Linked DNA regions of Homo sapiens. The protein of the gene in region 1 binds, or shares a complex with, the protein of each later gene. Each region holds a gene or a part of one and is shown on either strand. Other genes may lie near its edges.

What was found.
Region 2: KNSTRN (region 1) and SPAG5 share a complex: the UniProt entries of both Homo sapiens proteins name them as parts of the astrin (SPAG5)-kinastrin (SKAP) complex.

What each region holds. Positions count from the first base shown.
Region 1 is NC_000015.10:40,373,722-40,389,831, reverse strand, and holds the start of KNSTRN (small kinetochore-associated protein), read right to left. Parts: upstream 7,112-16,110; 5' UTR 6,997-7,111; coding exon 6,788-6,996; intron 6,605-6,787; coding exon 6,510-6,604; intron 3,471-6,509; coding exon 3,338-3,470; intron 2,674-3,337; coding exon 2,626-2,673; intron 327-2,625; coding exon 221-326; intron 1-220. UniProt on the Homo sapiens protein: Essential component of the mitotic spindle required for faithful chromosome segregation and progression into anaphase.
Region 2 is NC_000017.11:28,578,719-28,593,840, reverse strand, and holds part of SPAG5 (sperm-associated antigen 5), read left to right. Parts: intron 1-774; coding exon 775-1,859; intron 1,860-1,968; coding exon 1,969-2,143; intron 2,144-7,341; coding exon 7,342-7,416; intron 7,417-7,658; coding exon 7,659-7,751; intron 7,752-7,842; coding exon 7,843-7,977; intron 7,978-8,187; coding exon 8,188-8,307; intron 8,308-8,429; coding exon 8,430-8,522; intron 8,523-8,625; coding exon 8,626-8,739; intron 8,740-9,095; coding exon 9,096-9,189; intron 9,190-9,360; coding exon 9,361-9,508; intron 9,509-9,588; coding exon 9,589-9,691; intron 9,692-9,854; coding exon 9,855-9,988; intron 9,989-10,191; coding exon 10,192-10,330; intron 10,331-13,720; coding exon 13,721-13,832; intron 13,833-14,003; coding exon 14,004-14,090; intron 14,091-14,355; coding exon 14,356-14,476; intron 14,477-14,588; coding exon 14,589-14,700; intron 14,701-15,088; coding exon 15,089-15,122. UniProt on the Homo sapiens protein: Essential component of the mitotic spindle required for normal chromosome segregation and progression into anaphase. Required for chromosome alignment, normal timing of sister chromatid segregation, and maintenance of spindle pole architecture.

The DNA.
Region 1 (16,110 bases):
TGGAGCACAGCACAGACAGATCAGGAATTGTCCAACTCCCTAGGGGTGGTTGCCCTTTCTTGCCCTTGCTCTTGGACAGCCATAGCAAAAGCCTGGCTTTTTTTTTCTGCCCTTGGGCATCTGTGCATTAACAAGCTTGCTCATCCAAGGGGCCACCCATCAGGATTCCATGTGGATCGCCCAGTGGCAGCTGGTAACAGAGCTCTGGTGGGTCTCTTACCTGAGTTTCAGTCAACTTCTGGTGCAACTGCTTGTTGACGGCTTCTAACAGCTGGTTCTTGTCCTTGAGCTCTTCCTCTGATTTTTGCTTACTCAGTGGTTTGTAGCTGTAATAATAGTTGTACTTACATGAAAAGATAAAAGGGTTAACAGTATGGCCCACACCAGGTGCGGTAGCTCATGCCTGTAATCCCAGCACTTTGGGAGGCTGAGGCAGGCAGATCACCTGAGGTCGGGAAATCAAGACCAGCCTGACCAAGATAAGAGAAACCCTGTCTCTACTAAAATTACAAAAGATTAGTCAGGCGTGGTGGCGCATGCCTGTAATCCCAGGTATTTGGGAGGCTGAGGCAGGATAATCGCTTGAACCCAGGAGGCGGAGGTTGTGGTGAGCTGAGATTGCGCCATTGCACTCCAGCCTGGGTGGCAACAAGAGCAAAACTCCGTCTAAAAAAAAAAGAAAGAAAAATACGGCCTACAGAGTTACACAAACACGTCCCATTCTATCCTGGCTATTACACAGTGGTATATGACCTTCAGTGAGTTGCATAACCTCCCTGAGGCCTTGTTTCCTCATTTTTGAAATCAGGACAATACCCACATCTCATAGTATTATTATTATGAGTAATAAGAGAGAAAACACGTGTGCATTTCTTAGCCCAGTAGCTGGGCTATTATCTAATGTTAGTTTATCATCTAATAAACTCTAATATCACCAATTGTTGGGAGCAGGCCCCCCAAATCTGGCCATAAACTGGCCCCAAAACTGGCCATAAACAAAATCTCTGCAGCACTGTAACATGTTCATAAAGGCCCTAATGCCCATGCTGGAAGGTTGTGGGTTTACGGGAATGAGGGCTAGGAACACCTGGCCTGCCAAGGGCGGAAAACCACTTAAAGGCATTTTTTTTTTTTTTTGAGATGGAGTCTCGCTCCGTCGCCCAGGCTGGAGTGCAGTGGCGTGGTCTCGGCTCACTGCAAGCTCCACCTCCTGGGTTCACACCATTCTCCTGCCCCAGCCTCCCGAGTAGCTGGGACTACAGGCACCCGCCACCATGCCTGGCTAATTTTTTGTATTTTTAGTAGAGACGGTGAAACACCATAGTTAACCAGGATGGTCTCCTGACCTTGAGATCCACCCGCCTCGGCCTCCCAAAATCCTGGGATTACAGGCGTGAGCCACTGCGCCGGCCCTTAAAGGCATTCTTAAGCCACAAACAATAGCATGAGCAATCTGTGTCTTAAGAGCGTGTTCCTGCTGCAGTTAACTAGCCCAACCTATTCCTTTAATTCAGCCCATCCATTTCCCATAAGGGATACTTTTAGTTAATTTACTATCTATAGAAACAATGCTAATGACTGGTTTGCTGTTAATAAATACGTGGGCAAATCTCTGTTCGGGGCTCTCAGCTCTGAAGGCTGTGAGACCCCTGATTTCCCACTTCACACCTCTATATTTCTGTGTGTGTGTCTTTAATTCCTCTAGCGCCGCTGGGTTAGGGTCTCCCCGACCAAGCTGGTCTCAGCAACCAATATTAGAGTTTTTTCTTAAAGTTCTCAGTCTTTTTTGCTAGTATTTTGTCTTCAAAACTTTTTTATTTTTGTAAGTCAGAGTCTTGCTCTGTCACCCAGGCTGGAATGCAATGACGTGATCTTGGCTCACTGCAATCTCTGCCTCCCGGGATGAAGTGATCCTCCTGCCTCAGCCTCCTGAGTAGCTGGGATTACAGACATGCGCCACCATGCCTGGCTAATTTTTGTATTTTTAGTAGAGATGGGGTCCCATCATGTTTCCCAGGCTAGACTCGAACTCCTGACCTCAGGTGATCCACCCACCTTGGCCTCCCAAAGTGTTGCGATTACAGGTGTGAGCTGGTGTGCCCTGCTGTCTTCAAAACTTTTAAGATATGCCCAAATAATAGATCTGGAACTAAAACCTATTTGTACAGACTTTTCAGCTTATTATTTCTATTTCTGATAGTGCAAAACTTCCAAACTAGCCTCAAAGATGAGACATGAATCCTTCTCCAGGTTTTCACCACCACCACCACCAGAATCTTCATCTCGAGATCACTAACTACATACACCCAGCCCTTCCTCTCCTGAAGGCTTTACCCTCCTGTTGATGGGCCATAGCTAAGTGTGATTTCCAATCAGCAGTGGTCCTGGCGTGGAGTCCAAAAAGCTCTTGCTTGAGACACAAGATAGTAGCACCAGTGATTCTTGCACTGACAATGGTTCTTACACCTAGCTGTGCCTCACCCCTGAAAATTCCACTCAGGTTCCTGAGGTGGAACCCAGACCCTAACACAGTAAACAAGTCCCACAAATGATTCTGATGCAGAACCAAGGATTGAGATCCACTACCCTAGAATAGTGGCCAAGTTGATTTACCCTGATGCTCACCCTTTTCTGACATTCCTTCTGGTGGCAGTGTCAGTAGCTTTCATTTGCCTAGGAGGGCAGAAACAAAGAAATGAATCAGAGACTTACAGTACTGTTAAGTGTGCTGTGAACAGGCAGAACAAAGAGCTTGAGTTTCTGAGGAAAGAACCAGACATAAAAGGCAAATGGCACAAGCTTAAGAGCTCTGAGAGACTATGCATTACTGCTTCGGCACAGATTATTGAAAAGGCTTTTTAGTAGCAAAGGGGCATGCCTCCGACCACCCTAACAACCTGACAGAGCTGTTCCTCTCAAGATGGCGTGGCTATCTCATGTCAACCTCACTCACCTGGAACTGACTGCTGGCTGGGGACATACACACACACTAGGGCTGGACTGTGTGGTCAGAGCAGCAACCTAGGATAACAACTAGTCCCCACCCTGCATGACTACCCCTCAGGGTTGCTGTATGACTACAGTGCTGCCACTTGTATGCTCAGAGCAAGCGATGAAAGAGGAAAGAACACCTCTTATAACTCTGGCTGTGTCTCTTCAGAAAGATCAACACAGAGGGTTCTGGCACAGAGCTCAGCAATGCTGCACTGCTCTGGGCCACTGATTGAAGGCCAGTTGTTCAGGAGACTTGTGTTGTCCAAAACTCTGTTTTCTAATTCTTTGTATTGAGCAATTTCTAGGAAGATGTTCTAACTGGATACTAATGATCCGTTCTCACCCATTCTCTCGTCTCAGTTTGGTGATTTTTGTAACATCATTCTCTGGACCTCCTGAATGAAGCTGTTTGGAAACATCGACTTCTTTGGACCTAACAGGTAAGAGACTCTTAGAAGTGGCCCGAGTTTGTGTGTCTGCAAAGGAAAATGAGAGGTAAAGCTTCTGGCATCATGACCCGACAGTTGCAACCCTGTAACAAACAGAGCCCCATTCGAAGTTGTCATAAATCTTTATTTTACTTTATTTTAAAAAGTATTATTTATTTTTTTGAGACAGAGTCTTGCTCTGTGGCCCAGGCTGGAGTACAGTGGTGTGATCTTGGCTCACTGCAACCTCCACCTCTTGGGTTCAAACGATTCTCCTGCCTCAGCCTCCCGAGTAGCTGGACTATAGGCACCTCAAATATGTTTTAAAATTTTAAAAATAGAGACAGGGTCTCACTATGTTGCCCAGCCTGGTCTCGAACTCCTGGGCTCAAGCAATCCTCCTGCCTTGGCCACTCTGGCGTGAGCCACGATGCCTGGCCAAATCTTTATTTTCATTCTGGCAAATTTCAACATGTGAAGATTAATTCAAAAGAATAAAACTTCCAGGCTAATTGGCAATAAAAACCAAAATTATTTAAACGTGACAGTACAGCATGTTTGAGGGTAGCCAAAAGTTTCATTGAACTGAAAGGTGTAGGCTGTAAAAGTGAACATGGAGATGGACACCAGCAGAGAGCAGGGTGGAAGTTAGCAGGTAAAACATGCCTGAATCCTTGTACCATCTCATTAAGCTCCTCCAAGCACTCTGCACACTCTCCTAAGGCATGACTGAGCTGCTCTGAGTTTTTTTAAACCGTTACTTCGTTGTTTTTACTAGAATGTCTTCCTAACCATTCTAAGGCATCTTTGTGTCCCCATCACCTAGGAAAGTATCTGGCATATGAACAGGGGTTCAATAACTGCTTGTTGAATAAATGAAACACTTCACAGTTCCATGGGTTGTTTCACAGACCATCTCTAAACCACCTGTCTGGTCCCTTCCTCTTCCATGCTGCCTGCCTCTACCACTAGCCCTTTTGTTTACCCTTTGTTAAGTTTAGAGTTTCCCTATTAGGCATTCTAATCTGATCTTCTTGCCAGATAACCAGAGAAATGGCCCTGCCATAACACTCTTCTTCCCCAAAGGAGAGCATTTTCCTCTATCCTTGTGCCAGCCCCGCAACCACACAATCTATCATTTGTGTTCTACAGCAAATTCAAGTAACTTATCTGGAGTTAAGCACCCCCACCCTCACATGCAGGCTTTTCTGGACTTACTCTCACTTTGTTCACTGTAAAATGGCCCCTTTAAGTTTGACCTAACTTAAGAGCCATTACAATCAAATCAAATTGAAGAAATGCAGTACAAATGAAGTATTAAAAGGGTTCTTTCTGAGGTGTCTGTCTGAAGAAAAAGGTAATCTTGGAGGAATATCATCTTCTCCTCTCTCAAGTATTAGTAAGTTTTAAACAATAACAAATCTACTCCATGTAAAATGGAGTTAACAGTCAATTGATCAAAATTAACACTCTTCATTGACTAGAATTGGTTCCAATAATTTGTATTTGCTAAAATCTAGGATTGCACTGTAGGAAAAATTCAGTAGGATTTAACAAAGCTGTCTCTTAAAAATGGGAGACACTGGGAGAGGAACTGGATGGCTGGTGTCAAGGAAGGGAAGGAAACTTGTTTATCATTGTATATGGTTTTCCACCTTTTTTTTTTTCACATGTGCATATATTACTTATCCAGCCCACGCTCAAAATCAAAACAAAAATCCTGGGAGGCAGCCTAAAAATTTGAAACTGTTCCAGTTACATATGATCATAAAGCTGGGACAGAGATAGAAATCAAAGAGATGAACACTTCCAACTTGGCTGAGAGAGCTAGTCACTGCCCACTGACTCAGGGGCACCGCATCTAAGGGAAAGACACAGCAGCTGAGAGACCTGGCTCCAGTTCTTCCAGCAACTCCTAGTCCCCGCTGGTGCCAGGATTACCATTCAGGTGTTCTGCGGCAACACAAGACAACAAACAACCCATTAAGCCTTTGGAGAAAAGCCTATTTACTTCAGAGCTCAATCTTTTTTTTTTTGAGACGGAGTCTCGCTCTGTCGCCCAGGCTGGAGTGCAGTGGCGCAATATCGGCTCACTGCAAGCTCCGCCTCCCGGGTTCACGCCATTCTCCTGCCTCAGCCTCCCAAGTAGCTGGGACTACAGGCGCCCGCCACCACGCCCGGCTAAGTTTTTGTATTTTTTAGTAGAGACGGTGCTTCACCGTGTTAGCCAGGATGGTCTCCATCTCCTGACCTCGTGATCTGCCCACCTCGCCCTCCCAAAGTGCTGGGATTACAGGCGTGAGCCACCGTGCCTGGCCACTTCAGCGCTCCATCTTGCCAAGGTTTATGTACCAGCTGAGTGGAATCATCTGGGAAGGGATCATAAATAGCTACTCCATAATCTCCCACAACAGTTTTCTGATGTCTGAAGCTTACTCTGTACTATAATCTCTAGATTAGGCAGTTCCCCGACTGCAGACCCCATGAGATGACTTTCAACCACAAGCAAAGCAACACAAAGCAGATGGCAAAGCAATTAAAAACTATTTTTAATCATGTCTCTCTCTTCGCCCAAGTTTCTCAAATACTGTGCCTAGGTCTAACCCCTCTCTCCCACTTCACTCAACAAACGTGTATTGAGAATGTGGTAATGAGAAACACGGTGCAGATATAAAGGTGAACAAAGAACCCTAAGTATCCCACTTCTCAAATGATTCTCCTCTTTCCTCCCTGAAAACAAACCCAATCCCTCAAGATAGCCCAAGTCTGGAAATAAGACGATAACCGATTAGAAGGGGATTCCTAGCTTAATGGGAATAACATTGTACAATAACCAACAACTTGAATCTAACTGATGAATACAGTACACATGCGGGCAGAAAAGTGCAGAGCACGTCTAAAATCCTACCACATGGTCCTTCCCTTAACTCCCATCATAAACCTACATAGCCTGGTTATAGGGGGCTCACAGGTTTTCAGGGCCGACGGGACGCCCTTCCCCGTGCCCGCGCCACCCATTCGATCTCCACACTCCCGAGACCATCCCCGGCCAGGCCGCAGTGCCCCGGGCGTGGCTTGGACCCTCACCTGCCGGCTGGCCGCCGCTCAGCGCAGAGGGGGGCTGCAGGCTATACACTGTCTTAACCACACTGGTCATCGTAACGAGGCGGCACGGCTGAACCCTGGAAGGTACAGGATGAATGTTACCCAGCGCTGGGCCACTGGGCCCGAGAGAGTGGAGGGCCCGGGGATAGCGCGACCCGACAGGCCCCGGCTCGGGGTTGGAAAAGAGAAAATCCTCCTTTCCCAGCTCATTCCGTCCTTCCTCCCATCCAGCCCAGTCCCTCGCCCCGGGAGAGCCGAACCCAGGAGCCCGCCGGTCCTGCCCGCAGTCCTTCTCGCTCTCGTTTAAAAGATTCCCTGCAGCAACTGTCGTGCCACCGGCTAAGTCGGCCGCCTGGGTTTCAAATAGAAACTTCCGGTAGCTAGGCGGAAGTGGGTGGGAATCGCACTCTGTAGACAGCCATGTTGTACGGAAAACTCTGTCCAGGGGCGGGGCTTCGGGAGCCGCCATACTGTACGGAAGGTTCGCTCAGAGGCCAGAGCCAGACCTAGCGAAAGGTGTTGGAGCCCCCAGGTCTGGGCAGAGGAGGAGGGTGATGCAATTTGTAGGCTTGAATGGAGCTAATGAGCTACCAGCGTCATATTCCGGGATGGAGACGCAAACGTGGCGACATTTAGGGTCCATGTCACAATCCTCTTTATTTAGTTTGGGATTGTTAGGGATATTGCCAGGAGCACAGGTTATTTGGATGAAAACTACACGTTACAGGTGGAGAGTGGCAGGTGAGGCTTGAAGAAAAGGACCTATGGGCTGAGATACCTGAGGCACCTACCTGAGGTCCTAATTTTAATAGCACTTATCCAGATTTTCAGTAGTGATTCAAAGCTACTCCCAATAAACAGGGTAGCTTCCATTACTAAATGCACTAGCTCATTCATTTCATCTGGCATTTATTGAGTACCTGCTGATTACCCAACAGTGTTCTCAGTGGGTGGAAGGGAGTGAGGGAGGGCAAATATCAAGATTGACCTTGGCTCTGCCCTCCTGGAGTTTACAACTTAGAAAACAGACAGTGAACAAATAATCACATAAATAAATATATATTTACGGATTGTGGTGAAATTGTGAAGAAGGCTGGGCACAGTGGCTCACAGCTGTAATTATAGCACTTTGGGAGGTGGAGGCGGGTGAATTGCTTGAGTCCAGGAGTTTGAGACCACCCTGGGCGACATGGTGCAACCCCGTCTCTACAAAAAATACAGAAATTAGCCAGGTGTCGTGGCATGCTCCTGTAGTCCCAGCTACCCTGGAGGCTGAGGTGGGGGAATTATGTGACCCTGGGCGGGGCAGAGGTTGCAGTGAGCGGAGATCGCGCCACTGCACTTCACCCTGGGTGACAGAGCGTGATCTCAAAAATCAAACCAAAACACACACACTATGAAGAAAAAGTACAAAATCGTATAAGATAGAAAAGCAGGGAAACTTAGATTATATTGGGGGCTCAGGGAAGACCTCTCTGAGATGATGTTTGATTAAGGAAGGAGAGGGAGTTAATTTCATTGGGGAAAGGGGAAAATGCAAAGTCCCAAGGCAGAAATGGGTTCTTCTATAGGCACAGAAAGATAGGAAGAGAGTGGTACAGATAAAGCTGGAGAAATAAGCAGTCAAAAGACAGATTTTACAGGCCAAGGTATAGAGATTAGATTTTATCTAAAAGTAATGGAAAGCCACTGAAGTATTATAGCAGGAGAGTGTCATCCAATTTATATTTTATTTTATTTTATTATTATTTTTTGAGACAGGGTCTCACTCTGTTGCCCAGGCTGGAGTGCAATCATAGTTCACTGCAACCTTGAACTCCTGGGCTCAGGAGATCCTCCCACCTCGGCCTCCTGAGTAGCTAAGACTAAAGGTGCCTGCCACCAGACCCAGCTAATTTTTGTAGAGATGGGGTCCTGCTATGATGCCCAGGCTGGTCTTAAACCCCTGGCCTCAAATGATCCTCCCACTTCAGCCTCCCAAAGTGTTGGAATTACAGGCATGAGCCACTGTACCTGGCTCAATTTATATATACTTTATATATATATTCTTTTCTTTCTTTTTTTTTTTGGAGACGGAGTCTCACTCTGTTGCCCAGGCTGGAGTGCAGTGGCACGATCTCGGCTCACTGCAACCTCCGCCTCCTGAGTTAAAGCGATTCTCCTGCCTCAGTCTCCCGAGTAGCTGGGTCTACAGTGCCACCACCACGCTTGGCTAATTTTTTATATTTTTAGTAGAGACGGGGTTTCACCATGTTGGCCAGACTGGTCTCAAACTCCTGACCTCAGGTGATCTGCTCGCTTCGGCCTCCCAAAGTACTGGGATTACAGGCGTGAGCCACCACGCCCAGTCCTTTTTCTTTTCGAATAATTGGGCTTGAATAATTGTGTGGATAGAGTCACTATTTTCTGCTGGGGGAGATTGAGAGTTGGGTTTTGAACGTGGAAAACCTCGACATATCTTTGAGGCATTCCGGTGGAGTGGTCAAGTAGGCAATTGGAAATACAGGCCCTGAGCCCAGAAGAGAGCCTGGATTGGAGATACACCCTTGGGAGTTGTTGACATATGAATGTACTTAAAATCTTGATATTTAGGAGTTCGAGACCAGCCTGGCCAACATGATGAAACCCCGTCTCTGCTAAAAATACAAAAAAATGGCCAGGCACAGTGGCTCACACCTGTAATCCCAGCACTTTGGGAGGCTGAGGTGGGATCACTTAAGGCCAGAAATTCGAAACCAGCCTGGCCAACATGGTGAAACTCCATCTCTACTAAAAATACAAAAAACTAGCCAGGCATGGTGGTGCATGCCTGTAATCCCAGCTACTTGGGAGGCTAAGGCAGGAGAATGACTTGAACCTCAGAGGTGGAGGTTGCAGTGAGCCGAGATGGTGCCACTGTACTCCAGCCTGGGTGACAGAGCGAGACTCTGTCTCAAACAAAATAAAATAAAAAATAAAATAAAACCTTGATATTTGATGAGCTCAAGAGAAGAAGTGTGCAGAGAGCCTTTGGGCCAAGGACAGGGACACCTGCATTTAAAAGTTGCAATGGTAATAAGGTGCTTGCCAAGAAACCTGATAAAGAAGTGCCAGAGAGGTGAGAAGAAAACAAAAAAGGGTGGTGTTCCAAAATCCAAGGAGGAAGTGGCAAGCTGCTGAAGGAGGGAGTGGTGAACTATTGAAAATAGTTGAAAGGGCAAGCAGAATGAGAACGAAAAGCATCCAATGAATTTAGCAACAGAGAAGTCATGATGAGTCTAGCAAGAGGAATGCTGGTGGAGCGTTTGGAGTGGCAGTCACATGGGCATGGGTTGAAGAGTACGTGGGAGATGAGGAAGCAGAGATGGCAGAACTCCAGGCGTCTGTTGCAAAAAGAGCAGAGCAACTGGGCAGTAACTGGAGATGGGTTATGGGGGTCAAAGGAAGCTTTCCTTAAAGCTGTGGATATGTGTGCTGATAGGAACGAGCCAGCAGAACAGAGGGAAAGGATACTCAGGAGCAAGGAAGAAGGAAGATGGGATCCAGAGTAGCATCTTTAAATTCCTTTATTCATGCGCCCCCACAAAATAAAAAAATAAAAAAACCCTCTTGCCTGTTTTCACTTGATACCTAAAATTTAAGTTTACTTTTATTTTTATTTTTTTAGAGGCAGGATCTTGCTATGTCACCCAGGCTAGAGTGCAGTGGCTATTCACAGGTGTGATCATAGATAGCGTACTGTAGCCTTGAACTTCTGGACTCAAGCCATCCTCTCACTTCAGCCTCCTAAGTAGCCAAGACTGTAGGCATGCACTATCTCACCTGGCTTAAATTTTTTTCATAACTTTAAATCATTGTAAAGGACATACTTTCTGCCTGTTGTATATTGTGTATACTTTTTTTCTTTTTTTTTGAGATACGGTCTCGCTTGGTTTCCCAGGCTGGAGTGCAGTTGTGCGATCATAGCTCACTGCAGCCTTCAACTCTTGGGCTCAAGCGATCTTCCTGCCTCAGCGTCCCAAGTAGTTGGGGCTATAGGCACGTGCCACCATGCCTGGCTAATTTTAAAATTTTTTTGTGGAGATGAAGTCTTGCTATGTTGCCCAGGCTGGTCGGGAGCTCCTGGCCTCAACTGATTCTCCCACCTTGGCCTCCCAAAGTGCTGAGATTACAGGCATGAGCCACCCACCTGGTCACATTGTGTATACTTTGTATTCTTTTCTTTTTTCTTTTTTTTTTTTTTTTTGAGATGGAGTCTCATTCTTTTGCCCAGGCTGGAGTGCAGTGGTGCCATCTCGGCTCATTGCAACCTCTGTCTCCCGTACTCAAGCGATTCTCCTGCCTCAGCCTCCTGAGTAGCTGGGATTACAGGCATGCACCACCACACCAGGCTAATTTTTGTATTTTTAGCAGAGACAGGGTTTCACCATGTTGGCCAGGGTGGTCTCGAACTCCTGACCTCAGGTGATCCGCCCGCCTCAGCCTCCCAAAGTGTTGGGATTACAGGCATGAGCCACTGCGCCTAGCCCTTTGTATTCATTTCTAAAATTCTTTCTCTTGGTGTTTTTTGGATAATTTCTATTGTTATGTCTTCAAGTGCACTACTGTTTTTTCTGCAACGTCTAAACTGTTGTTAATTCCATTCAGTGATTTTCCATCTCAGACTTTTTTTTTTTAATTTTAAAAACACTTTTAAATTCTTTATTTTGGAATCGTTATAATTGACAGGAAGTTACAATGATAGTATAGGGAGGTCCTTTGGACTCTTTACCCAGTTTCCCCCAATGGTTTTGTTTCAGTACAATTTTAACAGCTTTATTGAGATATAATTAACATTCCATAGACCACATATTTTAAGTGTACAATTTGATAAGTTTAGAAATTACATATACCTGTGAAACCATCACCACAATTAAGATAATAAACACAGCCGTCATCCCCAAATCATTCCTCCTTCCCCTTGGTACTTCTTCCCATCCTCCTCTTTCTGCCTACCCCACCCACCCCATCATCTCAGACATTTTAGTTTTCGTCTCTAAAATTCAAAGTGGGTATTTAAAAATATCTTCCTAGTCTCTACTTAGTACATATGGAATACAGTTATAATAATTCTTTTAGTGTCCTTGTCTAATTCTCACATAGGTGTCAGCTGTAGTGGTTTCAACTGATTTTTCTCCTTATGATGGGTTATAGTTTGCATGACTGGTAATTTTTTATTGGAAAACCAGCCATTGTGAATTTTACATTTTTGGGTGCTCGTTAATTTTGGATTTCTGTTAATGTTCTTGGGTTTTGTTCTGGGATACACTTCAGTTACTTAGAAACAGCTTGATTCCTGAATTCAGGTCTTGCTTTTGAGATTTGTTAGGTAGGTTCCAGCAATGTTTAAACTAGGGCTAATGAATCCCCACTACGAGGCAAGGCCCTTCTGAGACCTCTGACCAATGCTCCATAAATTTGAGGTTTTCCAATCTGGCTGATGGGGACAGGCGTGGTCCAGGCTGTGTGTGACTTCTGGCTACTGTTCCGGCCCATTGTTTTGGGTGGTCCTTTCCTTTGTCTCAAGTGGTTTCCTTACACTTATATGATGAATCATGCTCTGTGGAACACTCAAGGGGGGCCCTTTGCAGATCCCCAGAATTCTCTATATATCCACCTTTCTCCTCTCCAGTACCCTGTCCTGAGCACTCTAGCCAGCTTGGCTGCTCCACACTCCCAGCTATCCCCTCACCTCAGAGTCACTTGCTTTGCCTGGGTTCTCCCTCCGTGAAATACATCCTCTCAAGCGGTAAGCTGGGCAACCGAGGGGTTCTCCTTGTTTGTTTCTTGCCTCTGAGAGATCACTGTCTTTTGTTACCTCATGTCCAGTGTCTTGAAACTCATTATTTCATGTATTTACTGTTTGGTTGGTTGTTTCAGGCAGGAGGATAAACTTGGCCCCTGCTCCTCCATCTTGGCTGGAAAGGGAAGTTGTATCTGTACTTTCAGTCAAAAATTTTTTTTTTTTTTTTTGAGACTCTGTTGCCCAGGATGGAGTGCAGTGGCGCAATCTCGGCTCACTGCAAGCTCCGCCTCCCGGGTTCACGCCATTCGCCTGCCTCAGCCTCCTGAGTAGCTGGGACTACAGGTGCCCGCCACCACGCCCAGCTATTTTTTTGTATTTTTAGTAGAGATGAGGTTTCACCATGTTAGCCAGGATGGTCTCGATCTCCTGACCTCGTGATCTGCCCGCCTAGGCCTCCCAAAGTGTTGGGATTACAGGCATGAGCCACCACGCCCAGCCTTCAGTCTGTTTTTGTTCAAACTGTGGAGCTGCAGATTAAAGTTATTCCATTTTAGGGAAAATGTCCACCATACATCCTACTTGCAAAGACTATCCTCTCTGTCAAACCTGTGAGCCAATTCTGACCTTCTAACAGAAAAAGTCTGATTTTATTTTTCCATTCAAATCAATGTGGTTAATATGTATCCTGTGTCAACCATCTCACTTTCAGTTTAAATTCTTCTTTATTTCTTTTTTTAGAGTTAAGGTCTCGCTCTGTTGCCAGGCTGGAGTGCCATAATGTGATTATGGCTCACTGTAACCTCGAACTCCAGAGTTCAAGTGATCCTCTTGCTTCAGCCTCTGGAGTAGCTGGGTCTACAGGCGCATATCACCATGCCCAGCTAATTTTTATTTTTATTTTATTATTTATTTATTTATTTTGAGATGTAGTCTCGCTCTGTCACCCAGGCTGGAGTGCAATGGCATGATCTTGGCTCACTGCAACCTCTGCCTCCAGGGTTCAAGCGATTGTCCTTCCTCAGCCTCCTGAGTAGCTGGGACTACAGGCATGCTCCACCACGCCCGGCTAATTTTTGTATTTTTAGTAGAGACAGGGTTTTGCCATGTTGGCCAGGCTGGTGTTGAACTCCTGACCTCAGATGATCTACCTGCCTCGGCCTCCCAGAGTGCTGGGATTACAGGCGTGAGCCACCGCGCCCGGCCCATGCCCAGCTAATTTTTAAAATTATTTTTTGTAGATACGGGATCTTGCTATGTTGCCCAAGCTGGTCTCAAACTCCTGGCCTCAAGCCATCCTCCCACTTCAGCCTTTCAAAACACTGGGATTATAGGCATGAGCCACTGTGTCTCACCTGAAGTTGAATTATTTTTAAAAATTTTTATTATTTTTTCCTTTTTAATATATATTTATATATTTTACAATATAACATGTCAATGAATTTGAATTCTTAAATGAAGAAGGCACAGAACTGAGCCACAGGGCTGCCCCTGTGAACTTTCTCAAAGAAGCTCTCCAGGCTTTGCTCTTTCAAGGACTTCCTCAAGCAGAGCATTCTCAAGTGGCCCTTTTATTTGTTTTTTACAGCGCAGAGCAAGGAGCCAGAGTAGGATTCAGAATGAGGGAGGGGAGGCAACTGGGAAAGTGGAAGTTGGGAAGGACAGCTGTCAGGCCTGTGGCTTCTTAGGCCCACCAATATAAGGAGGGGAACATATGGAGAAGGCGGCTCTGGAAACTGATTACTTTAAAACTATCTGTGTCCACCTACCTTCTAGAAAGTCTTCATGTCCTTGTAGGGGAGTGCAAACCCTCGTGTGAAGGCCTCTGACACCAAGTGTGAGAAGCCATTGATGGAGCCATTACTGCTTCCTTCGTTGTAGCAGAAGGGATGGGGAGAGGAGCAGGCAGGAGCGGGGGTAGGTAAGTTGTGGCTTTGGTGCCTTGAAGGTGAGGAAATTTCTATTTGAAGGCTTCAGTTTTCTTCATGAAGAATTTTTTTTTTTTTTTTGTCCACTGAGGGGTGGGGGAAGGTGAGATATTTGAGGAAGGTGGAGAAAATATAAAAGAGTCAATACAAATAATCAAAACTAGTAGCTAGAATGAATACTAGCTAGGCAGAGCTGAGGGTCCAGTTAAGATAGGTGGTCATGAATTCAAATCTACATCAATCTGCTCAGCTGTGTGATTTTCTTTAGCAATATTAAAGCTCTTGTTTGTTTGATGGTTGTGGATTTGGTAAAATGCTGATCTTTCCCCTATATTGAGAAAAATGTGAGTAATCACAAAGAGGCCCGATAATAATTATGAGAAATTTATCAAGGCCCTTCCAGTGTTCCTCTGCATAAGGTGGCTTTGGATGGCCAGACATTTACATAGCACATAGTGGCTTTCTTTTGTTTCTCATATTCCTGGTGAATTGAACTACGATTTCTTCTCCTAAGCATAAATACCTGCAGACCTTAGTTACAGTCATCCCTGTGAACAAGGGTGTGGGTAGAAAGGGTGAGGAATGTCTGTCTTTCCTATCACCAGGTAAATGGGATCTTGATGCTTGGCATGGGGTCCCAAGAGCTTGCCATTACCCATGTGTATTATCAAAAAATGAGATACTGCCACCGTCAAAGAAAAGATCAGGGCCGGGTGTAGTGGCTCACACCTGTAATCCCAGCACTCTGGGAGGCCGAGGTGGGCGGATCACAAGGTCAGGAGATCGAAACCATCCTGGCTAACACAATGAAACCCCGTCTTTACTAAAAATACAAAAAATTTGCCAGGCGTGGTGGCAGGTGCCTGTAGTCCCAACTGCTCGGGAGGCTGGGGCAGGAGAATGGCGTGAACCTGGGAGGCAGAGCTTGCAGTGAGCCAAGATCGTGCCACTACACTCCAGCCTGGGCGACAGAGCAAGACTCCGTCTCAAAAAAAAAGAAAAGATCAGAAACTCTCTGGACGATAGGCAAAGGTTGTAAACCAATGTATCCTCTTTCTTAAAATCTGATTTAAAGCCTTCTTCCCTGTCCTGACATGCACTGGGAGAAGGACAGAATGAGTTGGAGGGGGCTAGGGAAATTTTGGCTTATAACTCTCTTGAGAAATGTCTTTTTAAAAATTGTCTCGGCCAGGCGCGGTGGCTCATGCCTGTAATCCCAGCACTCTGGGAGGCCGAGGCAGGCGGATCATGAGGTCAGGAGATCGAGACCATCCTGGCTAACACTAAAAATACTCTACTGTCTCTACTAAAAATACAAAAAATTAGTGCAGTGAGCCGAAATTGTGCCACTGCACTCCAGCCTGGGCGACAGAGCAAGACTCTGTCTCAAAAAAAAAAAAAAAAAATTGTCTCAAGCTGGAATATTGCCCGCATATCATGGTATGGGATATGCTATATATCAGTAAAATCTAAGATTCAGCCAATAAAATCAGTCTGTCTAACACTGTCACTCTAAAAGTCCCCAAATCACCACAGCCATGGAAGGATGGTTTTCCCATGGTAACAGACTATATCAAGTTTACATATATATATATATATATTTTTTTTTTTTAAGATGGAGTCTCGCTCTGTTGCCCAGGCTGGAGTGCAGTGGCGCAATCTCGGCTTACTGCAAGCTCTGCCTCCTGGGTTCACATCATTCTCCTGCCTCAGCCTCCCGAGTAGCTGGGACTACAGGCGCCCGCCACCACACCCGGCTAATTTTTGTATTTTTAGTAGAGACGGGGTTTCACCATGTTAGCCAGGATGGTTTCGATCTCCTGACCTCATGATCCACCTGCCTTGGCCTCCCAAAGTGCTGGGATTACAGGCGTGAGCCACCGTGCCCGACTTA
Region 2 (15,122 bases), on another chromosome or scaffold:
TGTAGTTAAAGCTTAAGTACTCGTTTTTTTTGTTGTTGTTCAGATTATCATCTGTGTCTTCCAGCAGCTCTGTTTTGTTAGGGTCTACCTTTTTTATTTATTTATTTATTTTTTTTTGAGACAGGGTTTTGCTCTGTCACCCAGGCTGGAGTGCAGTGGCACGATTTTGGCTCACTGCAACCTCTGCCCCCTGAGCTTCAGTGATCCTCCCACCTCAGCTTCCTGAGTAGCTGGGACTACAGGCACACATCAGCACCACCATGCCCGGCTAATGTTTGTATTTTTAGTAGAGATGAGGTTTGAACTCAAGCGATCCACCTGCTTGTGGCCTCCCAAATGCTGAGATTACAGGCGTGAGCCACTGCGCCCAGCCGAGAGGGAGAAGAACTTGTACCAACTCTAGATTCTGACAGAGCTTAAGCCTTCACTCACACCCTATGGACCCCTCCTATCTGTTCATCTAGAAGTGCGTTAGAGTTCAGAATGGAGATGAGTGGGGTCACTTTCAAGCTACCATCTGCCCACGATATGGATCTATATTCTCAGCCTGTTTATAATGTAGGCTGGTTCACTTGGAAGGACCCAAAATGGCTTAGCAGCTTTTCTTTCCCTACTATTGGGTCTCTATATGAGCAACAAAGATTAGCCAAGTTCTTACCTAAGCAGAGGTAGTAAGAATTCTTTTCTTTTTTGAGTGCACTATCTTGCACCTGTAATTGTATGTCGGGAACTGAATTGACTGCCTTAGACAACTACTTTTGTTTCCTTTGGCAGGAAGGCAGCAACAACTCATCTCCAGTGGATTTTGTAAATAACAAGAGGACAGACTTATCTTCAGAACATTTCAGTCATTCCTCAAAGTGGCTAGAAACTTGTCAGCATGAATCAGATGAGCAGCCTCTAGATCCAATTCCCCAAATTAGCTCTACTCCTAAAACGTCTGAGGAAGCAGTAGACCCACTGGGCAATTATATGGTTAAAACCATCGTCCTTGTACCATCTCCACTGGGGCAGCAACAAGACATGATATTTGAGGCCCGTTTAGATACCATGGCAGAGACAAACAGCATATCTTTAAATGGACCTTTGAGAACAGACGATCTGGTGAGAGAGGAGGTGGCACCCTGCATGGGAGACAGGTTTTCAGAAGTTGCTGCTGTATCTGAGAAACCTATCTTTCAGGAATCTCCGTCCCATCTCTTAGAGGAGTCTCCACCAAATCCCTGTTCTGAACAACTACATTGCTCCAAGGAAAGCCTGAGCAGTAGAACTGAGGCTGTGCGTGAGGACTTAGTACCTTCTGAAAGTAACGCCTTCTTGCCTTCCTCTGTTCTCTGGCTTTCCCCTTCAACTGCCTTGGCAGCAGATTTCCGTGTCAATCATGTGGACCCAGAGGAGGAAATTGTAGAGCATGGAGCTATGGAGGAAAGAGAAATGAGGTTTCCCACACATCCTAAGGAGTCTGAAACAGAAGATCAAGCACTTGTCTCAAGTGTGGAAGATATTCTGTCCACATGCCTGACACCAAATCTAGTAGAAATGGAATCCCAAGAAGCTCCAGGCCCAGCAGTAGAAGATGTTGGTAGGATTCTTGGCTCTGATACAGAGTCTTGGATGTCCCCACTGGCCTGGCTGGAAAAAGGTGTAAATACCTCCGTCATGCTGGAAAATCTCCGCCAAAGCTTATCCCTTCCCTCGATGCTTCGGGATGCTGCAATTGGCACTACCCCTTTCTCTACTTGCTCGGTGGGGACTTGGTTTACTCCTTCAGCACCACAGGAAAAGAGTACAAACACATCCCAGACAGGCCTGGTTGGCACCAAGCACAGTACTTCTGAGACAGAGCAGCTCCTGTGTGGGTAAGCGCCCCTATGTCCTTGCACCTCGTGAGTTCCATTACCCTGGACCTTCCCCTCCCATCCCTTCCCCTCCTTTTCTTTTCGTCATGTTCTTCTCTTTCTGCTGCAGCCGGCCTCCAGATCTGACTGCCTTGTCTCGACATGACTTGGAAGATAACCTGCTGAGCTCTCTTGTCATTCTGGAGGTTCTCTCCCGCCAGCTTCGGGACTGGAAGAGCCAGCTGGCTGTCCCTCACCCAGAAACCCAGGACAGTAGCACACAGACTGACACATCTCACAGTGGGGTAAGAAGGTTCCTCTCAAAGCTTGAGGGATCCCAGTGGGGATCCTTGGAATTTAAGCTGAGAAGCTGCCAGAGGGCAAAGGGGACTCCTATCACAGGCTTATACTTAGAACATTTGCAAAAGCTGAGAATCTGGGCAGTCACAATGGCTGATGCCTGTAATCCCACTGCTTTGGGAGGCCAAGGTGGGAGGACTGCTTGAGGCCAGGCATTTGAAACCAGCTTGGGCAACACAGCGAGATCCCATCCCTACAAAAGATTTTTAAAAAATCAGCTGGATATGGTTTTGCATGCCTCACTACTCAGGAGGCTGAGGCAGGAGGATCATTTGAGCCCAGGAGGCTAAGGCTGCAGTGAGCTATGATCATGGGCAAGACAGTGAAACCCTGTCTCTTAAAACAAAAAAGCTGAGGATCTGGAAAATCCCCTTAAAGCTGTGGGTAGTCACTCTACCCCTGGGGTACATCAGAACTTTCCAAAGGAGTGCAAGCAAGGAAACTTTTAAAGGAATTGGTTTTTAGATCATCATCTTCCACAAGTATTCTTTTTCTTCGTTTTTTGCATTGGTAGACTATATTTAATATTTTAAGAAAAATTATGAATAAGCCTAAAACATTTTTTAAAATAATTTTTAATTTTTGTGGTTACAGAGTTAGGTAAATATATTCATGGAGTCCATGAGATGTTTTGATATAGGCATGTGATGGTCAATAATCACATCATGGAAAATGGAAAATGGAGTATCTGTATCTGTCCCCTCAAGCATTTATCCTTTGTGTTACAAGCAATCCAATTATACTTTTAGTTTTTTTTTTTTTTTTTTTTTTTTTGAGACGGAGTCTCACTCTGTCACCCAGGCTGGAGTGCAATGGCCTGGTCTCGGCTCACTGCAACCTCTGCCTCCCAGGTTCAAGCGATTCTCCTGCCTCAGCCTCCTGAGTAGCTGGGACTACAAGCGCATGCCACCCCACCCGGCTAATTTTTGTATTTTTAGTAGAGACAGGGTTTCACTATGTTGGCCAGGCTGGTCTCGAACTCCTGCCCTCATGATCCACCTGCCTCAGCCTCCCAAAGTGCTGGGATTACAGGCGTGAGCCACTGCGCCTGGCCCCTGTTGTTTATGTGAAGAAGATTTCTCAGTGTTTACATCTGTCAGAATGGAAAGGAGTCAGCTGGCATAGTGGCTCACCCCTGTAATCTCAGTACTTTGGGAGGGTGAGGTGGGAGGATCGCTTGAGCTCAGGAGTTCAAGACCAGCCTGAGAAGTATGGTGAAACCTCATCTCTACAAAAAAATACAAAAATTAGCTGGGTGTGGTGGTGTGTGCCTGTAGTCCCAGCTACTTGGAAGGCTGAGGTGGAGGATCACTTGAGGCTAGGAGTTCAAGGCTGCAGTGAACTGAGATCTTGACACTGCACTCCAGCCTGGGCAACAGAGCCAGACCCTGCCTCAAAAAACAGAGTCACGAATTGTTGCTGAACTATTTCTTATTGCTGGAATTATAGTAATCCACAGATATACGAACTAATAAGGGGAAGGAATCTCCATCGATTTCATTAATAGGTGATTCCCAATTAAATTTTGCCGAGCATGTTTATTTTATTAGAAATTATATTACAGTGACTAATATACAACTGATTAAAAGATTTCTCTATCCTAAAGAAAGCTTTTTCACTTTAAAGCCTTCCGGTCAAAGGAATTTAAAGGAAATTTTAATTTAAATTTAGATGAACTTTCATTGTTGTTGCAGAGATGATGGTTAATAACAGATTTTATTTTTATTTTTTGAGATAGTTTCTTGGTCTGTCACCCAGGCTAGAGTACCATGTTGCGATCAGGGCTCACTGAAGCCTCAGCTTCCTTGGCTCAGGTGATCCTCCCACCTCAGCCTCCTGGGTAGCTAGGACTGTAGGTGTATGCCACCACACCTACCTAATTTTTTTGTATTTTTAGTAGAGATGGGGTTTTGCTATGTTGGCCAGGCTGTTCTCAAACCCCTGGGCTCAAGTGATCTGCTAGCCTTTGCCTCCCAAAGCACTGGGATTACAGGTGTGAGCCACTGTGCCCAGCTAATAACATACTTTAAAGCATAAAAATATATTACATTAGGCTGAAATTCTGAGAAAAATAAAAAATATATGTTCAAAGAGAAAAAGGGATGACATAATAAAATTTCTGACTGCTAAGAAGAGCTTTTTCTTGTATTTTTAAAAGATAGCAACTAGGTATCTCATCATTTTGGTGTATGTAGTATTTATGCCACTGGATATATTTAAGAGTAATCTAATAATTTTATTTTAGGCTGGGCATGGTGGCTCATACCTGTAATCCCAACACTTTGGGAGGCCGAGGCGGGAGGATCACCTGAGGTCAGGAGTTCAAGACCAGCCTGGCCAACATGGCGAAACCCCGTCTTTACTAAAAATACAAAAATTAGCTGGGTGTGGTGGAGGGCACCTGTAATTCCAGCTACTTGGGAGGCTGAGGCATGAGAATCGCTTGAACCCGGGAGGCAGAGGTTGCAGTGAGCCAAGATCGCGCCACTGCACTCCAGCCTGGAGGATAGAGTAAGACTCTGTCTCAAAAAAAAAAAAAATTATTTTAAATTGTCAATATTGGTAATATGCTGGACATTACAGCCTTTGCAACAATTTAAACTTAAGGGTACTTAGTTTTTGCAGGAAATATTAGAGGAAAGTAGCTAAAAGACCACTGTTGGCCCAATGTGGTGGCTCACGCTTATAATCCCAGCACTTTGGGAGGCTGAGGCCGGCAGATCACTTGAGGCCAGGAGTTTGAGACCAGCCTGGCTAACATAGTGAAACCCCATCTCTATTAAAAATACAAAAGTTAGCTGGGTATGGTAGTGCACTCCTGTAATCCCAGCTACTTGGGTGGCTGAGGCATGAGAATTGCTTGAACCTAGGAGGTAGAGGTTGCAGTGAGCCGAGATCACCCAGTGTACTCTAGCCTGGGCAACAGAGTGAGGCTGTCTCAAACAACAACAACAACAATGTTCTAGAGGATTGTATTACAACACAGGCCTAAGAAGGAAGGGAATGGTGGCAGGTGAAGGAATTGATAGCACCTCACCATTGTGGCTGTTGAGATAATAGGTGGCTGCTGCTAAGAAGAGATGGTCCCCAAATGTGCAGAGACCTCCTTTGAGTTGAAAATATCCTCAAAGTAATGACCTTACCATTTGCCAAAAATCCTGGAAACCATAAGCTCCATGTTCCTCCAGCTGTTCAATTTCCCTCCTGTTTTCTTATCTTTGTGTCCTTTCCTCTTGTTCTTGACCTTGTTTCCCATCCCTGAATCTGCCATGCATCCTCTTCCCCTGAAGGTTGCCAGGTCCCTTTGTAGGCCACTGAAGCAGAACCAAAGAGGGGAAATGACATACCTTTAGCCATTCTCCATCAGCATGCCATGTCCTTGCTGCCTGGCTGCCTCCTTCACATTAATCTCATCACCTGCCTGACTGTCCAGCTGAGCACGATGTGAGCCCTATCCAAGCTCATGTGCTACTCTGTGCCTTATTTCACGATGCAGCAGTGAATGATAACTGCTTTGCTGGGGAAGGGAGCCATGAACTCCAAGAAATCAGCAGTGCTGCTCCAGTAGTAACTTTTCCCCCAGATGATGGCTGCCTTGCCTCAGTAATGAAGACTCCCACTTTTCTCTTAGAACTTGTCTTCTGGGGTTCTACTGCCTTTGAGATCATACCTACTTACTCTATGCATACTATGAGTTTTATCTATCTGACCCAGGATAATGAGCAGACAATTAAGAAAGTAAAAATGATGAATAAATACCTAAGAAGGTTAGCATTATTGGCAATAAAAAATGCAAATTGAACAGTGAGATGCCATTTTCTTGTGACTCAATAGCAAAGAATAAAATAGGTAATGCTGGTAAGCATACTCTATTTATCTGCAGGATATAAATTGGTTCATCCTTTTTTTTTTTTTTTTTTTTTTTGAGACGAGGTCTCACTCTGTTACCCACACTGGAGTGCAGTGGCACGAACATGGCTCACTGCAGCCTCTACCTCCTGGGCTCAAGGGATCCTCCCACCTCAATCCAGCTGAGTAGCTGGGAATATAGGCATGTGCCACCATGCCTGGCTAATGAAAAAAAATTTTTTTTTTTTGAGACGGAGTTTTACTCTTGTTGCCCAGGCTGGGGTGCAGTGGCGTAATCTCGGCTCACTGCAACCTTGCCTCCCGGTTTCAAGTGATTCTCCTGCCTCAGCCTCCGGAGTAGCTGGGATTACAGGCACGTGCCACCACGCCTGGCTAATTTTGTAGTTTTAGTAGACATGGGGTTTCTCCATGTTGGTCAGGCTGGTCTCGAACTCCCGACCTCAGGTGATCCGCCCGCCTTGACCTCCCAAAGTGCTGGGATTACAGGTGTGCGCCACCGCGCCCAGCCTTTTTTTTTTTTTTTTAGAGATGGGGTTTCACTGTGTTGCCCAGGCTGGTCTTGAACTCCCGGACCCAAGTGATCCTCCTGCCTCAGCCTCTGAAGGTGCTGGGATTACAGGCATGAGTCACTGTGCCTGGCTAAACAAAGAAATTTTTTACCTACCTGTGGATTTTTCTTTCTGACTTGGCTTCATTGAATTGAGTACTTTGCTTCTGCTTTTAATAGGAAAGGTGGCTGGGTGTGGCAGGAGCACTTTGGAAGTCCGAGGCAGGAGGACTGTTTGAGGCCAGGAGTTTGAGACCAGCCAGGGCAACATAGCAAGACCTCATCTCTACAGAAAATAAAAAATAAATAAAATAGGAAAGGCTCCTATAACTCACTGGGTGGGAGGAAGAATGAGGTGCTGGTGGTACATGTTGCCTACTCAAAAGGAACAACTTGGCTGGTCATGGTGGCTCACCCCTGTAATCCCAGCACTTTGGGAGGCCGAGTCGGTGGATCACTTGAGGCCAGGAGTTCAAGACCAGCCTGGCCAACATGGTGAAACCCCGACTCTACTAAAAATATACAAATTAGCTGGGTGTGGTAGTGCATGCCTGTAATCCCAGCTACTTGGGAGGCTGAGGCATGAGAATTGCTTGAACCTGGGAGGTGGAGGTTGCAGTGAGCTGAGATTGTGCCACTGCACTCCAGTCTGGATGATAGAGCAAGACTCTGTCTCAAAAACAAACAAACAAACAAAACAAGGAACAACTCTGTTTTTCTGGCTAGATAACTAATAAACTTCAGCATCTTAAGGAGAGCCATGAGATGGGACAGGCCCTACAGCAGGCCAGAAATGTCATGGTAAGTGATGATTGACCTTACACCACCACTGGGTCTCCTGTGAAGATGAAGAATGGAGAATCCTGGGTGGTTAGTAGATGGTGATACTAAGTCGTGGTGGTGAAGGGAGGTTTCCAAACATTTGTAAAGTACATCTCCTTATGCGGAGCTTGGAATTGGGGTTAGCGGTTTTCCTCCCCAGTGCCCCTGTTTCCTGCTTAGTGACTTTATTTGATCTCACCTACCCATTTTTTTCTCTACAGCAATCATGGGTGCTTATCTCTAAAGAGCTGATATCCTTGCTTCACCTATCCCTGTTGCATTTAGAAGAAGATAAGACTACTGTGAGTCAGGAGGTAAGCAGCCTGAAGATGGAGGTGGAGGCCTGTGGTGGGACTAAAAGCCATAAAGAGGAACCAGACACATTAACTGATTCTTACCATATAGTCTCGGCGTGCAGAAACATTGGTCTGTTGCTGTTTTGATTTGCTGAAGAAATTGAGGGCAAAGCTCCAGAGCCTCAAAGCAGAAAGGGAGGAGGCAAGGCACAGAGAGGAAATGGCTCTCAGAGGCAAGGATGCGGTAAGGTGACAGGCATTTGTTCTTGGATGTGGGAGGTTTCCACCTCAAGGTTCCTGCAGGAACACAAATGCACTTTAGACACAGATGGGTGGCCTAAGAACTGCCTGCCCTGGGCAGTAAAGAACTGATCTATTGAGGTGTCATGGTTACATCTTTTTGTGCTGGCTCCCCTGTTGCCCACTGTGGCCTTGCAACCACTTCCCTCAATAGGCAGAGATAGTGTTGGAGGCTTTCTGTGCACACGCCAGCCAGCGCATCAGCCAGCTGGAACAGGACCTAGCATCCATGCGGGAATTCAGAGGCCTTCTGAAGGATGCCCAGACCCAACTGGTAATTTAAGGGCATTTTCTTTCCTGGGGTCTGTGCTGACAGACTGGGAGGGTAGTTGCATACTCCCACTTTGCTGTATCCAAAGGGAAGGGGTTCCCGCCTAGGCAATCTTTCTTTTGTAGGTAGGGCTTCATGCCAAGCAAGAAGAGCTGGTTCAGCAGACAGTGAGTCTTACTTCTACCTTGCAACAAGACTGGAGGTCCATGCAACTGGATGTGAGTATTTGGGACCATCATAACTAATTCCTTACTCACATCAAGTCCTGTTGTGAGCTTTGCCTCAAGTGTGCTCTACTGACCTGCTTGCTTCCCCTGGTAGTATACAACATGGACAGCTTTGCTGAGTCGGTCCCGACAACTCACAGAGAAACTCACAGTCAAGAGCCAGCAAGCCCTGCAGGAACGTGATGTGGCAATTGAGGAAAAGCAGGAGGTACAAACCAAGAGTGGGGACTGCTTAGGCTTGGTTTCCTTCCTAATGTGTGATACCATTAGCCTCTTACCCTGGATCTGTTTTCTTTTCACCCTGTGGGTTTGGAGGCCAGCCAGTAAGGTCTCTTAGCTGTAAGATGGCCTTAAGCGCAGTTTTTTCCTTTGCCCTTCAGCATCTTTACTTCAGCAACTTTTCTCCTGTCTCTACTTTTTCCTGAGGATCAACCTTATTTTCTGCAATGTTGATGCCCAGGAGCAAGGTAGTTTTCTGTCTTGTCCAGAAAGAGAAGCTGGACCAAGTCCTGGGATTATTGATTCAGGAGGAACTATAGGAGGAAAACCATCTGTTCTTCCTAGGTTTCTAGGGTGCTGGAACAAGTCTCTGCCCAGTTAGAGGAGTGCAAAGGCCAAACAGAACAACTGGAGTTGGAAAACAGTCGTCTAGCAACAGGTGTTTGTGTGTGTGTGTGTGTATGCATGCATGTAAGCATTTGAGCCCTGTTAAGGCTTGGAGTGTGGCACTAGAGCAAGGAAGTACTCAGGAGCACTTGCTTTGGAGCAGAAGTTTGGGGAGTTTCTAGCCTGCTGACCGCATGGTGTCATTAGGATACTTTTGTTCTAGATCTCCGGGCTCAGTTGCAGATTCTGGCCAACATGGACAGCCAGCTAAAAGAGCTACAGAGTCAGCATACCCATTGTGCCCAGGACCTGGCTATGAAGGATGAGTTACTCTGCCAGCTTACCCAGAGCAATGAGGAGCAGGCTGCTCAGTGAGTTCCTAACGGGGTACTGTGGCAGTAGGCATCCAGGATTTAGGACCAAATGGGATCTAATATGTTGTCTCTGGCAGATGGCAAAAGGAAGAGATGGCACTAAAACACATGCAGGCAGAACTGCAGCAGCAACAAGCTGTCCTGGCCAAAGAGGTGCGGGACCTGAAAGAGACCTTGGAGGTAAGGAATATGGCTTGGGCCAAGGGAGCTGGTAAGCCTCAGGAGTGTGATTCTTGCCTGATAGTGTTGAGGTAAGGTTTGAGACTGTGAACTAGAAAAAGCCTCTGTACCCAGGGCACTAAAATTCTCCCTCCCTGTCTTGCTCCTTCTCTTGTCTTCCCAGTTTGCAGACCAGGAGAATCAGGTTGCTCACCTGGAGCTGGGTCAGGTTGAGTGTCAATTGAAAACCACACTGGAAGTGCTCCGGGAGCGCAGCTTGCAGTGTGAGAACCTCAAGGACACTGTAGAGAACCTAACGTAAGTTCTCTAACTTTCTGTACTTCCCCCTAAGTGCTTATTTTTTTCTCAGGAACACTTCTAGAAGCCAAAATCTCCAAGAAGAGAACTGTGAGTGTTGAGCCTCTTGTTTCTCTCCTTTAATGCAGCTCTGTGGGGATTTGGGATAGGCGTTCAGAGAAGGTAATTTGGTCTTTGGTCATCTTCCCTGTTCCTTATTTCAGGGCTAAACTGGCCAGCACCATAGCAGATAACCAGGAGCAAGATCTGGAGAAAACACGGCAGTACTCTCAAAAGCTAGGGCTGCTGACTGAGCAACTACAGAGCCTGACTCTCTTTCTACAGACAAAACTAAAGGAGAAGGTAGGATCCTGGGGTTCCTTCTCTTCTCTTCCAATTGTATCTTTATTTTACAGATAGTCTTCCTAAAACATTACTCTTTTTCTAACTGTGACCTTTTATGATTTCAGTTACCTACAGGACCTCATTAGCCTGTTGCTCAAACCTTTCTTCCCCTGTCTCCTATCTCCCTATTATGAACACTTTGCCCCAGCTAGACTGCCTGTATGCTACACACATGTCCCCATTTTTATCCCCAGAACCCAGACTCTGGCTGTTCCCACATTCATTCTATTCTTTCTTCAAACTGGAAATGCCTTTTCTATTAAAATCCTCCCTTCCGACCTGGGCAACGTGGTGAAAACCATCTCTACAAAAAAATACAGAAATTAGCCCAGGTGTAGTGTTGTGAACCTGTAGTCCCAGCTATCTGGGAGGCTGAGGTGAGAGGATCACCTGAGCCTGGGAAGTTGAGGCTGCAGTGAGCCATGATCATACCTGGCTAATTTTTTTGTATCACTGCACTCCAAACTGGGTGAGAGTGAAACCCTTTCCCCCACAAAAAAAGAAATCTTCCCTGGTTTACCTTCTTTGAACTGTTCCCAAATCAAATCATGTGGACCCGGTGATCTTTTCTTCTGCCATATTTCTCATGAACTTACTCTTCTTTTGTATTTGTATTAATTTTCCTTGGATACCTGGTCTCTTCAACCAGACTATGTTTCAAGAAAGCAGAAATATAGCCTTCTTTGGCCTCCCTGCAGTGTGCACTAAACAATAAATGGTTGACATCATTCAGAATACAAAGGTAATTAGCTTATTCAGCAGATAAGGCACAACAAATATCCTAAAATCTGGCAATTGCTTATGACCTGATCCTCTTCCCCAACTGGGTACCGAGCACAGGAAATGCCATCAAATCTACAGTTTAGCATGGAAGACAAACAGATGTAAACTTGTCATCTTGACTTATGATCATGGTAGAGGTCTGCATGGACCACTGTGAGAGATAGAGAGGGGAGCACCACTTCAGCCTTCGAGAATTAGGATGCCTTCTCAAAGCAGCTGACCTTGGGTACAGTCTTGAGGTTTAGACGTTTGTGGGGCAGGGGAGGGTATTTAGGAAGTCCCACTAGGCAGAGGGAACGGTGTATGAAAGTTTCATCTGACTACATATGAGAGTCGTACGTAGAAAGTCATGCACATAGTACATGATGTGTTCTTTTTTATAGTGTCTACCTTATAAAACCTGGGTTAGGTGCTGGGACTAGAGGATGAACAAGGCAAGATGCTGCTCATATGGAATGCAGCAAGTCTGAGGAATGGGAAGCAGCTCTTCATGGCTGCAGCGTGAGAGCTCTGTGGGGCAAGGCAGGAGACAACACTGGAGAAGTAGGCAGGAGGCCAGATTTTGAAGGCTTGAAATAATGGCAGTTTTATAGGCAGTAGAAAGGAGAGGATGGAGTGAATGGATTCAATAGATATTTAGGAAGCAGAGGCAGTAGAACCAATTTGATGTAAGAGTGACCAATTTGATGTGAGAGTAAGTTAGAAGAGTGAATGATGATCCTTAGATTGCTAGGAAAGAGGGCCCAGCGGGTCAGCTGTGTTAGTGTGTGGAGACTAGGGCTAGTGACACCTCCGGGTCAGCTCTGTGCCCAGGAAGCACTTCAACCTGTGTGGCAGGAGGGATAGCAATAGGAAGCACTTCAATTCCCCACAACTCAGACACCCAGACGGGAGGGCAGAGGACCAAGGCTGAAAGGAGTAGAGAGCCTGAGAGAGAGATGAGACTGAGGGGAGCTAGTGGTGACTCAGGCTAACCAGTCAGCGGGAGAGACCTAGACCGGGGGGCAGAGAAGGCGGGAGAACTGGAGAGAGGACCTAGCCTAGGAGGAGAGGGAGCAGGCTGAGAAGGAAATGCTCTGGGTAGGAGAGACAGACTCCAAGGAAAAATCCAACAAGTAGAGGAGGATTTGGGATTGGAAAAGCTGAGGTCCAGCTGGGAGAGCTGAAGAGGGATAGAACAGAAGAGGTTGAGCCATGGGGTTTCAAGTACGCGGAAAGGAGCAAAGATGTTAGGAAAGGGTCGAAAGGGCACATCCCGGAGTCCCAGGTAGCAGGACGAGGATGGCAGGGGAAGAGCCAAGGAAATGAAGCGGAGATGTTGAGTGGCTCCCGCCTTGCCTGGCCTTACCTGTGCGCAGCCAGTTAGCAGCCGCAGCCACAAGCACAGCTACTTCAGGACTGAGGCCAGCAAGCTTTTCCTATAAATGGCCATATAATAAGTATTTTTGGCTTTTTGGGCCATATGGTCTCTGTCTCAACTACTCAATTCTGCCTTTGTAGTTCAAGAGCAGCCATAGATGATACAGCCATTAATGGGTCTGGCTGTGTTCCAATAAAACTTTATTTACAAAAATAGTTGGCAGGCTAGATTTGACCTGTAGGCCACAATTTGCTAGCCTTCCCTCTCCCTGCTCTAGAATAGTAAATACAGGAGTAGGAACAGACTTTTGATAGGGTGTTCCCTATCAGGGCACAGGGAAAATGGTGAACTCAGCTTCATACATACTAAGTTGACAGATTGACTGTGGAACCTTCTGGTAGATTCTTCACAGGCAGTTAGCCTTTGAGTCTGCAGACTGGGAAAAAGACTGGGAAAAAGTTGAGAGAGGGATGGAAGAGTCATTCATGTGGAAGGGAAGTTTGAAGTAGATGTTTTTGTGATGCTCCCAAGGCAAGGCCACCCTGGGAATGAATTAGAGTAAATTTAGGGCCAAGGACTTAACCCAGAGGATCCAGCAGTTAAGGAAGGACCTGTGAATAGAGAAGAAATAACCAGAAAGGTGTGGGGCCTGCCTTTAAAGGAGAGAGACTCATGTCCTGGAAGCTAAGAAAAGGAAGTTTCTAAAAGAACAATGTGGTCATCAATATCAAATAGGTCAGGTAAAACAAGAGCTGAAATATATGCATTGCATTTGAAAGTAAGGCTGCCATTGGTGAACCAAATGACAAGAATTTAGGTGGAATGACAGGGGAGAAGCCTGAGTGTAGTGGGCTGGGGAGTCAATAGATGGTGAGAGTTATAAACAAGAAGTATAGGCTCTTTTTTTCTTTCTTTTTTCTTTCTTTCCTTTCTTTCTAGAAAAGGCAGTAGCTAAAAGGGGATTTAAGGTAAGAAGAAGGGTTTTGTTTTGTTTTGTTTAGGTTTGTTTTTAAAATACTGCTGTTTTTGTTGGAGAGGCTTAAGAATATAAACATGTTCAGAGAAAGGCACTAATGGAGAAGTTGAAGATAGAGAATTGAGATAATAGGTGGAACAGCATTTTGGAGGAGATGGCTGGGAGTTACCTGGAAGCCCAGGAGTTCACTAGACCTGAACAGCAGCTATTTTTTCTTCTTTGCCCTTAGACTGAACAAGAGACCCTTCTGCTGAGTACAGCCTGTCCTCCCACCCAGGAACACCCTCTGCCTAATGACAGGACCTTCCTGGGAAGCATCTTGACAGCAGTGGCAGATGAAGGTTAAAGGCCCTGGGATTTGGGGGTGGGAAAGTTGTGACGCTGCTCCTGATATCTTCTGCTGTTGAAGATGTCCACCAGCGGGCTTGTCTATCTTACCCTGGCTTCCATTATGGTAGACCCCTGCCTGGATCATCAGAGGGGCCCTCTCCCATTATTGGTTTTTCTCTTAGAGCCAGAATCAACTCCTGTGCCCTTGCTTGGAAGTGACAAGAGTGCTTTCACCCGAGTAGCATCAATGGTTTCCCTTCAGCCCGCAGGTTAGGAGGGGCTCCAGGGATCCTGCCTCATTTCTAGAAAATCTGGTGGTGATGAGTAAAGACGAAAGCAGTGAGAAGTGCTTTGCTCTAAAAACCTCAATTCTACTTGGGCTCATTTTATTTCTGCCTTCTGGGATCTGTAATGTTCCAGACATTCAAATCCTGTGGGTGGGGAACACGGATAAGAGTTGTGGAAATGATGGCTATACACTCCTTCCTTCCAGGGCTGGAAGGCTAGACCTCTATCTGGGACTTTCTCTTTCAGAGACCCCAGGCATGGAGGAGAGCCTGGCAGAAATGAGTATTATGACTACTGAGCTTCAGAGTCTTTGTTCCCTGCTACAAGAGTCTAAAGAAGAAGCCATCAGGACTCTGCAGCGAAAAATGTGAGTGGGATGCAGTTTTGGTGACAGAGGGACAGTGAGACATCCTCTTATGCCAAGGGTCCAACTGATCCCTGAGAGGACAGGAATGTTGCTAAATTCTTCCTTCCTTCAGTTGTGAGCTGCAAGCTAGGCTGCAGGCCCAGGAAGAACAGCATCAGGAAGTCCAGAAGGCAAAAGAAGCAGACATAGAGAAGCTGAACCAGGCCTTGTGCTTGCGCTACAAGGTGAAGGAGGGACCTAGAAGTGGGGCGATGAAGAACTGGGGCAGCTCTACTGGCCCACTGGGAGCCATTATCTCTCCAGGAATCTGGGTGGTGGGGATTTTCCAACCACTGCCCTAGTTTTGCCCTTCCTGGGGTCAGACATTTCACATGTCAGCTATGGGCTGACCTGTCTTCCCAGGCTGACTCAGGAGAGAAGTCAGGAACTCTAGCAGAGCTCTCCCAACACTGAAATGTGCCTTGCCTGGCTTGGCCCTGGGGAAAGAATTGGCGTGATATCAATTGGTCCCATGTGGGCTAAGCATGGGTCAGGCACTCTCTCCTACCTCCTGGCAAGGGCTGTGAAGAGACCAGCTCTTCATGTGTCTTCTCACCTCCCTTTCCCTCACAGAATGAAAAGGAGCTCCAGGAAGTGATACAGCAGC